Linked DNA regions of Homo sapiens. The protein of the gene in region 1 interacts with the protein of each later gene in a pairwise test. Each region holds a gene or a part of one and is shown in the gene's direction. Other genes may lie near its edges. The genes, in order: ZBTB34, PIAS4 and RNF4.

Region 1 (3,647 bases):
TATAATTGTTAGATCTGGTTTTGTTATGTTTCTGTCAGAGGATGGAGCCGGGGCTATATATACTTAAGTAGTTCTGAGCAGTCTGGCGCTGCAGATTTTAGGCCACAGGAAGGAAACCTGTTGTAGGTGTGCCGCAGCTGTGAGCGCTAGTAGAAGGTGATTCCTTTTGATGTGTCCATCACCCTTTCACTCTTGTTGTCTAAAATAACTACTGTTTAAAAACACTGTCTTGGCAGAGCGCGGTGGCTCACGCCTGTTATCTCAGCACTTTGGGAGGCCGTGGCAGGCAGATCACTTGAGGTCAGGAGTTCGAGACCAGCCTGGCTAACATGGTGAAACCCCATCTCTACTGAAAATACAAAAACTAGCTGGGTGTGGTGGTGCACGCCTGTAGTCCAGCTACTCAGGAGGCTGAGGCAGGAGGATCACTTGAACCCAGGAGGCAGATGTTGCAGTGAGCCAAGATCATGCCATTGCACTCCGGACGACAGAGCGAGACTCCATCTGTAAAAATAAAATAAAAATAAATAAAATAAAATATTGTCTAAAATAACTCTTCACTGGTCGGGTGTGGCAGCTCACACTTGCAATCCTAGCACTTTGGGAAGCTGAGGTGGGAGGATCACGAGCTCAGGAGTTCAAGACCAGCCTGGGCAACATAATGAGACCTCATCTCTAATAAAAAATAGTAATAATAGGCCGGTGTGGTGACTCTTGCCTGTAATCCCAGGACTTTGGGAGGCCGAGGGGAGCAGATCACCTGAGGTCAGGAGTTCGAGACCAGCCTGGACAACATGGTGAAATCCCGTCTCTTCTAAAAATACAAAAATTAACTGGGCATGGTAGCGCATGCCTGTAATCCCAGCTATTCAGGAGGCTGAGGCATGAGAATTGCTTGAACCTAGGAGGCGGAGGTTTCAGTGAGCCGAGATCACGCCACTGCACTCCAGCCTGTGCAACAGAGCAAGATTCTGTCTCAAAAAAAAAAAAAAGTAATAATAACTCTTCACTGAAGGAGACTGAGCATGGTAAGTCTCAGCCAAAGCAACCCAACCCAAAAGAGATATAAAGGTGTACAGAGCTGAAGGGCAAACACACAAATCAAGACAATAATACTGAAAAGGGTTTAGCTCCATTTATTGTATCCAGTGTGCTACAGAGTTGAAAAATACCAATCAGAAATACACAAGTAAGGTAGAACATTTTTAGATGAATTTAGTTTTGTTTTTGTTTTGTTTTTTTTTTTTTTTTAGAAGGAGTCTCACTCTGTCCGCTAGGCTGGGATGCAGTGGTGTGCTCTCGGCTCACTGCAACCTCTGCCTTCTGAGGTCAAGCGATTCCCCTGCTGCAGCCTCCCAAGTAGCTGGAATTACAGGTGCACAACACCACACCAGGCTAATTTTTGTATTTTTAGTACAGATGGGGTTTTACCATGTTGGCCAGGTTGGTTTCAAACTCCTGACCTCAAGTGATCCGCCTCCCTCAGCCTCCCAAAGTGCTGGGATTATAGGTGTAAGCCACTGCGCCTGGCCTGAATTTAGTTATTTTTCACAAAGTACTTCAAACCCTCAAAAGTACTTGAAATGGGGAAATATTTTTCCTAAAAGGAGACCAATTTCTCAGTCAGAGCCAAAATAGTCCTACTATGTGTAAAATATTTTACTTTTGATCAAGATGAATATTAGGCAATTATGACATTAGGCTAATTGATCATTAGTTTATTTGGCTTTAGGTGAATTAACCAAAACATGAAAGACTAAAACAAGGGGAAGAATGCTTCAGGTAGATTTTAGGAGGTATGATAGCCACAATGGTATTGTTGTTGTAAGCTTGTGTTTATGCCACTTGTACTTAGTGAGGAGTCATTGGTGAATGATGCAAACTCTCTCTCTCCGCAGAGTACGCTTCATGTCAGTAGAAATGGACAGCAGCAGTTTTATTCAGTTTGATGTGCCCGAGTACAGCAGCACCGTTCTGAGCCAGCTAAACGAACTCCGCCTGCAGGGGAAACTATGTGACATCATTGTACACATTCAGGGTCAGCCATTCCGAGCCCACAAAGCAGTCCTTGCTGCCAGCTCCCCATATTTCCGGGACCATTCAGCGTTAAGTACCATGAGTGGCTTGTCAATATCAGTGATTAAAAATCCCAATGTGTTTGAGCAGTTGCTTTCTTTTTGTTACACTGGAAGAATGTCCTTGCAGCTGAAGGATGTTGTCAGTTTTCTGACTGCAGCCAGCTTTCTTCAGATGCAGTGTGTCATTGACAAGTGCACGCAGATCCTAGAGAGCATCCATTCCAAAATCAGCGTTGGAGATGTTGACTCTGTTACCGTCGGTGCTGAAGAGAATCCCGAGAGTCGAAACGGAGTGAAAGACAGCAGCTTCTTTGCCAACCCAGTGGAGATCTCTCCTCCATATTGCTCTCAGGGACGGCAGCCCACCGCAAGCAGTGACCTCCGGATGGAGACGACCCCCAGCAAAGCTTTGCGCAGCCGCTTACAGGAGGAGGGGCACTCAGACCGCGGGAGCAGTGGGAGCGTTTCTGAATATGAGATTCAGATAGAGGGAGACCATGAGCAAGGAGACCTATTGGTGAGGGAGAGCCAGATCACCGAGGTGAAAGTGAAGATGGAGAAGTCCGACCGGCCCAGCTGTTCCGACAGCTCCTCCCTGGGTGACGATGGGTACCACACCGAGATGGTTGATGGGGAACAAGTTGTGGCAGTGAATGTGGGCTCCTATGGTTCTGTGCTCCAGCACGCATACTCCTATTCCCAAGCAGCCTCACAGCCAACCAATGTATCAGAAGCTTTTGGAAGTTTGAGTAATTCCAGCCCATCCAGGTCCATGCTGAGCTGTTTCCGAGGAGGGCGTGCCCGCCAGAAGCGGGCTTTGTCTGTCCACCTGCACAGTGACCTGCAGGGCCTGGTGCAGGGCTCTGACAGTGAAGCCATGATGAACAACCCCGGGTATGAGAGCAGTCCCCGGGAGAGGAGTGCGAGAGGGCATTGGTACCCGTACAATGAGAGGTTGATCTGTATTTACTGTGGAAAGTCCTTCAACCAGAAAGGAAGCCTTGATAGGCACATGCGACTCCATATGGGAATCACCCCCTTTGTGTGCAAGTTCTGTGGGAAGAAGTACACACGGAAGGACCAACTGGAGTACCACATCCGGGGCCATACAGATGATAAACCATTCCGCTGTGAGATCTGCGGGAAGTGCTTTCCATTCCAAGGTACCCTCAACCAGCACTTGCGGAAAAACCACCCAGGCGTTGCTGAAGTCAGGAGTCGCATTGAGTCCCCCGAGAGAACAGATGTGTACGTGGAACAGAAACTAGAAAATGACGCATCGGCCTCAGAGATGGGCCTAGATTCCCGGATGGAAATTCACACAGTGTCTGATGCTCCCGATTAAGATGGTAAAGAAGTGCACCCAAACAAAGCACATTAATCAATGCATATTTGTGATTTGCTTTGTTGTAATCTTTGGTTTTCCCAACCATCTGGAAATCTCTTGGTCTCTTGGCAGTTTTTCTAAAGTTTCTGGATGGAACACTTCGTTGTGTTTATCCTTTCCCCTGCCCTCCCTCCCCGAAGGAGCTCAAAGCATGAAGGGCAACGCATCCAGGGAAAACACAG
Region 2 (3,647 bases), on another chromosome or scaffold:
GAGCCCGCAGTGCTGGGGGCTGTGGGGTCAGGCTTCCTCTCCGAAGGGGTCTCCTGCTGCTTCCCACAGCCGGCCCCAGGCTCAGCCTCTCTGTCACTGGATTTCTTTCTTGCTGCACCTAGGAAGTCCTCACCTTTGCCTCACTTGAACCCTTCCTGCTGCGCACGTCTCTCCATACACAAAGGAGGGAGAGTTTGCTTTAAAATCAGATGGGCACCTGCATCCCCTCCTAGCTGCCCCTTTGCCAGGCTTGAGGGTCCACCCGGGCACCGGGTAGCCAGAGCTGGGATCCAAGGATGGAAACTCAGCTGAGGAGTGAGCGGCTGGGGCAGCCTTGGCTCAAGCAGGGGAGCTGCTGGGAGCCAGCACGTGGCTGCCACCACGTCCCCACGGGAGAAGGAAGAGCCCACTGCTCCACACCCCGGCTGGGGGTCTGGGTGGGGGTCAGGAAGGAGGAAGTGGCTCCCAAGCGGGCAGAGATAAGTGGTGTTTCAGGCCAATAAGGGGTGGTAGGGGCATTTCCAGGCGGAGGAACGTCAGGACAGCTGGGGGGAGTGGGGGGGCAGGCTGGCACCATCACTCTGGACCCCAAGTCACTTGGGCAGGTGGCTTCCTGGAGGAAGCAACACTGGTCCACCAGGCAGCTGAGGGCCAGGTGGTGGATGGAGAGGCCCTGTGGGTTGTGGGCCAGGGTGGCCTGCCCCCCATGGCCCAGGGCTGGGGTCTCTCCTGAGCTACCCATGGATGGAGTTTACCCTGGGATGGAGCCACATCCCAGAAGCCTCAGGAGGGCAGCCAGGGTCCCTGCGTGAGTTTCCTTCTGGCTGTGGGCCTGCTGCCCGTCGAGGGGAGGGCGGCGCCTGCCTCCAAGACTTCATGTTTCACATATGTTTCCCCATGTTCCGTGCAGCTTGCTGGCGGGCACCGTCTTTTCCTTTAAAGAAGCAGCTACACTCCTGTCTGCAGGCTGCCTTGGGGCGGTGCTGGGGCTGGGCGGCAGCCGCTTGCTGGCTCACAGCCAGGAAGCCCCAGGATCCGTCTCCCAAAGAGTCCCTGCCTCATTCCCCGCTGTGGCCTTGGGGATGGTGCTTCGGTGACAGAATGAAGTCACAGCAATGACTCTTTCGGTGGCTGTGTTGCATGAAACTTGCCAGAAAAGTCCCATGGGTCATAGTCCACGCAGGGTGGGGGAGGCCACATAGGCCACCTCCGTGTGGGGGCTTCGGCTGGGTCTGTGCTGTGCCCAGGTTGTGGTCAAATCTAATGGTGGTTGCCACCCGGCTTTCTCCAATCCCTCACGGCCCCGAGCCACACAGCGAAGCTTGGGACTCATCGTCAGGGGCCTGTTCTGGGAGGTGGACGTCAGTGCCGGAGAGAACTCGAATCACAGCCCCGCGCCCTGCTGTTCCCACCCTCCTGACGGTGTCTTCCGTTCCCTCCCCACAGTCAAGGAGAAGCTGCGCCTTGATCCTGACAGCGAGATCGCCACCACCGGTGTGCGGGTGTCCCTCATCTGTCCGGTGAGTCGGGGCGCGGTCCCCTCCTCGAGGCCTCTCCTGCGGCCGGCCTTCCCCCCTGGCGGCCCTGGGCCCGGGGCGGCTTGGCTGGGCCGTGAGCCTGCGGGGGCGAGGCTGGTCTTCGTCCCCTCCGTGTTCCTGAGGCATGAGTGATTGGAGCGAGCCACAGGATGGAGCTGGGGGTGAGGGGCACCGGGCAGGCGGGCACAACAGGAGGGGTGCCCTGCTCACGCAGCCCCTCCCCCACAGCTGGTGAAGATGCGGCTCTCCGTGCCCTGCCGGGCAGAGACCTGTGCCCACCTGCAGTGCTTCGACGCCGTCTTCTACCTGCAGATGAACGAGAAGAAGCCCACCTGGATGTGCCCCGTGTGCGACAAGCCAGCCCCCTACGACCAGCTCATCATCGACGGGTGAGCCCGGGGCCCCGGGGAGGGCGGCCGGAGCCGGACATCCGTGGAGGTCTCGGTGGCACCCCGCTTCCTGCAGACCACATGGTGCCCCAGCAAGACACAGCAGTGGGGGCACATGGTCCTGGAGCTTTGGAAACCCCGGGCTGCGAAAAGAGCCGGTTTCTTTCTCGCGGAACTTCTCAGAGCCTTTGCTATGCAGGTGACAGCCACGTAGCTTAGGTTGCAGAAGGTGGGCTCCGGTCCACCCCGCTCCCACGTGACCTCAGGCAAGTGTGACCCTGAGCTCCAGGAGTGTGGTTTGTGCCACAAAAAACTGAGCCAGGTCGTGCTTTCACACGGCGTTCACCCCAGGACGCGCAGCCTTGGGGGTGACCTCCTCACAGAAAGGCAAAGGAGGTGGCGCCTCCTGGAGCACTCTGGCTACGCCATGCCCTTCCCTTCCTAGGTGGCACAGCTGTGGCCAGGCATTCCCCAGGCCACAGGGGACAGGAGGACAAGACCTTTCTCCCTGGTGGAAGGCTCTGCCCAGGGCTTAAGTTTCCAGAAACTGAGCCCCGTTGTCTGTGGTGCCTGATGCGGCTCCTGCCCGGCGCCGACCGCGCCCACCTCGTCCCCAGAGCCGCCGGCAGGGCGCGAGGCCACAGCGGCACAAGCTGGCGCCCTCACAGGCGGGAGCAGGCCCTGCCTGTGGGGGTGGGCCGGGTCCCCAGCCCTCAGGCATGGCCTCAGCGGACTGTGCAGGTGAAGGCAGGGCTGGCCTGCCTCTGGGGTTGTAGATTTCATCCCCAGGTGGACCTCCGGTTCATGCACTTGTCCCCATCCCAGGAGACAGACCTGTGAGCGTCCTCAGTTTACAGACGAGGAAACAGGCTCAGAGGAGGCAACCAGCAGCTGGAGCTACCCCGGCTCACGGGGCCAGGCTGAGACTTGAACCCAGCCTGAGTCTGGGTCCCCTCTGTGGAGGGCTGGGTGGCCACCCCCTTGCATCCCAGCTTCGGGTAGAGAGAGGAGTCCTTTGGGCCGGGCACGTGGGCTGCCTGAATGGCTGCTCTGTTCCCAGCCTGACAGCTGTGCAGCCGGGTGCCCGCCTTCCCCCACAGGCCCGGAGTGGGGCTTGGGCTTGGGGTGGCGGCAGCTCTCACAGCTCCAGGGCCACCAGGGCTGGGGCAGGCAGCTGTGTCCCATGCAGGCCTTGGCCTCAGCAGCCCATGGGACTCGGTGTAGCCAGGGAGGCTTCCTGGAGGAGGGGTCCTTGGTTCATACTTTGTTCCATGAGCCCTATCACCTCTCTGTCCCTGGCTCTGAGCTGGGTGACCCCAGGGTCCCCAAAAGAGCCCCGTCCCAGACCCTGCCTTCAGAGTCTTGTTCTTGGCCAGGGGAGCGGATAGAGGAGCAGAGCCAGACATAAACGTTCCCGTTGCTGTGTGTGTCTTGGGGAGGAGGAAGAGAAGCTGTGGGGTGGGGCTTTGGAGGGTGAAAAGCAGTTTTGCAAGCAGGGAAGTGGGCAGGCAGGGCTGTGCTACGCCTGGGGCGGCCCTGGCACGGTGGGCTCCGAGCATCGCCTCAGAGAGAGCTCGGCGGGGCGGAGGGGCTGGCCTGGGTGAGAGCCTCAGAAAGGGTGGCCCAGAGTGGGACGAGGGCTCTCCTGTGTGATGAGAACGATGCCACTGCGGGTGCCTGGGAGCAGCTGTAGCCTTGACAGTAACAGGCCAGCCTGGGC
Region 3 (3,647 bases), on another chromosome or scaffold:
CAAAATTAGCCAGGCATGCTGCCAGGCGCCTGTAATCCCAACTACTCGGGAGGCTGAGACAGAGAATTGCTTGAACCCAGGAGGCGGAGGTTGCAGTGAGCCAAGATCGCACCACTGCACTCCAGCCTTGGCGACAGAGCGAGACTCTGTCTCAAAAAAAAAAAAAAAAAAAAAGAATTTGCCCTAGATTAACCGATGAAGTTACTAAGCTAAGCCTGACTTTTGGTCCTTGGGCCAAGTGAGAGTGGTCAGCTTCACCTGCTGGGAGGAGCAGAGGTTTCAGGCTAGTCCATCCCAAAGAGAAAGGCCTGGGGCTGGGCATGCATGGTGCGTTCTCCCAGATGGGGCACAGAGGCATAGCCGTGTGGAAGTGGGATGCCGTGGAATAGAGGTATGCACATGCGCACACATACATAACCCCCCAGGTACATTTGTAAAAACCATACCTCCCCACTCAGAGCAGAATTCTGGAAGGGTGGTTACTGGCTTTCCCTCCTGAGGGAGGTGTTGGTCCTGGTGCTCTTTGCAGTGTATACTTCAGGATTGTTTTAGTTTGGGGTAAGCCTATAACATTAGCAGTCATACTAAAGTGTAGAGGGATACAACCTTACTTTCCTCTTAATCTTAATGCTTGTTGAAATACTTTCTTTTGAAGCTGGAGATGAAATTGTGGACCTCACTTGTGAATCTTTAGAGCCTGTGGTGGTTGATCTGACTCACAATGACTCTGTTGTGGTAAGTGTTGGAGTGTGAGAGTCGGCTGTTTCTTGGGTATGGGTCCCTGGCCAGTGCCAGCATCTGACAGCCTTGGTCACAGACTCCAAGTCAAGGTTACAGCTTATGCTAAAGAAGTTCATGCATCTTGTGGAATTGAGCTTTTAGAAAGAAAATAAACAGTAACAATAATAATAACAAAGAAGTTCATGCATTCAGTGACGAGAGCCCAAAATGAAAAATGTTTCTGGAAAATCATTTGTTATAGCCTTGTCGCCTATGGAGTAGGTCTGTGTAACCTGACCTTGCCACACCTGGGCACAAAAGTGGTTTGGGGAGAATCTCAAGACCCCCACATCTGTCTTCAGTCCCTGATTCCACAGTTTACACCAGCTGTGTGACCTTGGGCATGTGACTTAGCCTCATTCACTTTCCATGAAATGGGGACAGGTCACTCATGTCAGCAGGGCATGGTGTAAGACATCTTACAACAGATGCCGTGTTTGAGTGCCTGACACCTAGAATGGTGCCCAGTCACTGTGAGTGTATGCCCTCCCAACTGAAAGGAAAGGGAACGTTGGCTCAGCACTGCCCATGGGAAATCTCTCAAGTTCCAAAAGTGCCTGCTACTTAGCATGGCCTCAGGGGATGCAGGCTCCCTGCATTGCCACCTGATGCCTGCTGCGTCCTGATGCCAGGGAGGCTGGAGCCCAGGAGGCTGCCTGTGTCCCTGTCTCATGGCACCGGTTACAGACTGCAGGGGACGTGTGTATACGTGTCCTGCCTGCCAGGAGGGAGGCCTTGTCTGGTCAGAGGACACACGGAGAAGCTATTTCTGATAGACCTGTTTCATGGTGCATGCAGGTCTGGGAATCTGGTCAGCATCTTAAGGGCAAGTTTGCCTCTGGAAGATGCCACTTGAGTGTTTTCTGACAGTGTGCTCGGAACACAGGTCGGGGTGGGGGCACACTTGGCAGCATTGGCAGTGGGGTGGTAAGTGCTGCTGAGGAGGACTGTGGGGTGTGGGGGCTGCTAGTAGCTGAGTCTTCGCCTTGGCCCTGGGCTCACTGGTGTTGGGGTTATCCTGTTTGGCTGATGCCTGGGTATCTGAATAGGGACACCCCATAGGTGTTGCTTCTTAGTTGTGCTGAGAACTTCAGAATAGGGTTATACTGAGAAGTTTCAAGACTTCAATGCAAAGAAAAGGACAGGGATGGAAAACCATCTGAGATAAGCAGCAGTGGGTTTAGTTGTACGTGGTCCCTGCTTAGGTCTCATTAACGTGTTTTCTGAGGTACATACACACATATGACTTTGCTTATCATCCCTGTGTCCTGCATGGAGTTCTGGAAAGATAACTAATTTGGTATATTAGCTGGCAGCTACAGCACAGTCACTGATTTTTCCCCTCTTTCTTTTTCCCAGCTGACACCTTGGTTTCACCAGTTGCTCATTAAAGCTGGAAAGTGGTGTCTGCAGAAGTTTTTTTGTTTTTTGTTTTTTGTTTTTCTTGAATACTCAGTGTTCACCACAGTCTTCTTGGCCTTCTCTCTGCCAGACCCTGAGGAGAGAGCTAGGATTTTGACTGCAGGAAGACAATGATTGATTGGCTTTTGTTGGCTGACAAACCAACATCATTTCCCCTTTCACACTTGTGTTTTCTTTTGCTTTAGAAACAGGGTCTCAGGCTGGGCGCGGTGGCTCACGCCTGTAATCTCAGCACTTTGGGAGGCCGAGGTGGGCGGACCACAAGGTCAGGAGTTTGACATCAGCCTGGCCAACATGGTGAAACCCTGTCTCTACTAAAAATACAAAAATTATGCGGACGCCTGTAGTCCCAGCTATTCAGGAGGCTAAGGCAGGAGAATCGCTTGAACCCAGGAATCAGAGGTTGCAGTGAGCCGAGATCACGTCACTGCACTCCAGCCCGGGCAACAGAGTGAGACTCCATCTCAAAAAAAAAAAAAAATACAAAAATTAGCCAGGTGTGATGATGCATACCTGTAATCCCAGCTACTCGGGAGGCTAAGGCAGGAGAATTACTTGAACCCAGGAGGCGGAGGTTGCAGTGAGCCAAGATCGCGCCACTGCACTCAAGCCTGGGCGACAGAGCAAGACTCTGTCTCAAAAAAAAAAAAAAAGAAAAGAAAAGAAACAGGGTCTCACTCTGTTGCCCAGGCTAGAGAGCAGTGGCATGATCACACCTTACTGCAGCCTCCAACCCCTGAGCTTAAGTGATTCTCCCACATTATCCTCCTGAGTAGCTGAGACTACAGGTGCATGCCACCATACACTACTAAATTTGGGTCGGGTGGTGGTGGTGATTTTTTAATATTTTTGTAGAGACAGGGTCTCACTGTGATGCCCAGGCTGGTCTTGAACTCCTGGGCTCAAGCAGTCACCCACCTCAGCCTCCCAAAGCACTAGGATTACAGGTGTGAGCCACCACACTGGCCAGCTTTGTTTTGTTTTGATGACTAAGCTGCTCTTGCTAAAAGGGCTTCCTCTCTGAACTTCCCTACCTTTCTTCTGTTTCCCTGGGCTAGGGCTCCATGTTGGCAGTCCTACTCCCAATTAACCTGGGGCTGTCTGGTTAACCTTTATAAGATCTGCAGTCATTGGGAGACCCGGGGACCAGGAATATTGGTGTTGAGGGAGCTACCCTGGAAAGTGGATGGGTGGCCAGAGGGAGAGCTGATAGGTAAAAGGGAGACGCTCCTGGCTTGGGAAGCAGGAGTCCTAGGTTCTGGTCTCTCAGATCTACTGGTCAGTTTGATCAGTGGATTTATCTCACACTGTCCTCAGTGTTGTCAGCCACAAAATAACTGCTTTGGACTTGATAGCTCTTGCTAATCATTCTCTACTTATTTTTGATTTTAATAAGTCCAAGTGCCAGTTTATGAATTTACACTGAGACATATACTTGAGTTTGG

The links.
Region 2: the proteins of ZBTB34 (region 1) and PIAS4 interact in binary tests that used the Homo sapiens proteins (3 or more experiments, as listed by UniProt).
Region 3: the proteins of ZBTB34 (region 1) and RNF4 interact in binary tests that used the Homo sapiens proteins (3 or more experiments, as listed by UniProt).

What each region holds. Positions count from the first base shown.
Region 1 is NC_000009.12:126,877,492-126,881,138, forward strand, and holds part of ZBTB34 (zinc finger and BTB domain-containing protein 34), read left to right. Parts: intron 1-1,898; coding exon of another isoform or gene 1,899-1,908; coding exon 1,909-3,423; 3' UTR 3,424-3,647. UniProt on the Homo sapiens protein: May be a transcriptional repressor.
Region 2 is NC_000019.10:4,031,654-4,035,300, forward strand, and holds part of PIAS4 (E3 SUMO-protein ligase PIAS4), read left to right. Parts: intron 1-1,446; coding exon 1,447-1,520; intron 1,521-1,766; coding exon 1,767-1,927; intron 1,928-3,647.
Region 3 is NC_000004.12:2,500,004-2,503,650, forward strand, and holds part of RNF4 (E3 ubiquitin-protein ligase RNF4), read left to right. Parts: intron 1-655; coding exon 656-735; intron 736-3,647. UniProt on the Homo sapiens protein: E3 ubiquitin-protein ligase which binds polysumoylated chains covalently attached to proteins and mediates 'Lys-6'-, 'Lys-11'-, 'Lys-48'- and 'Lys-63'-linked polyubiquitination of those substrates and their subsequent targeting to the proteasome for degradation.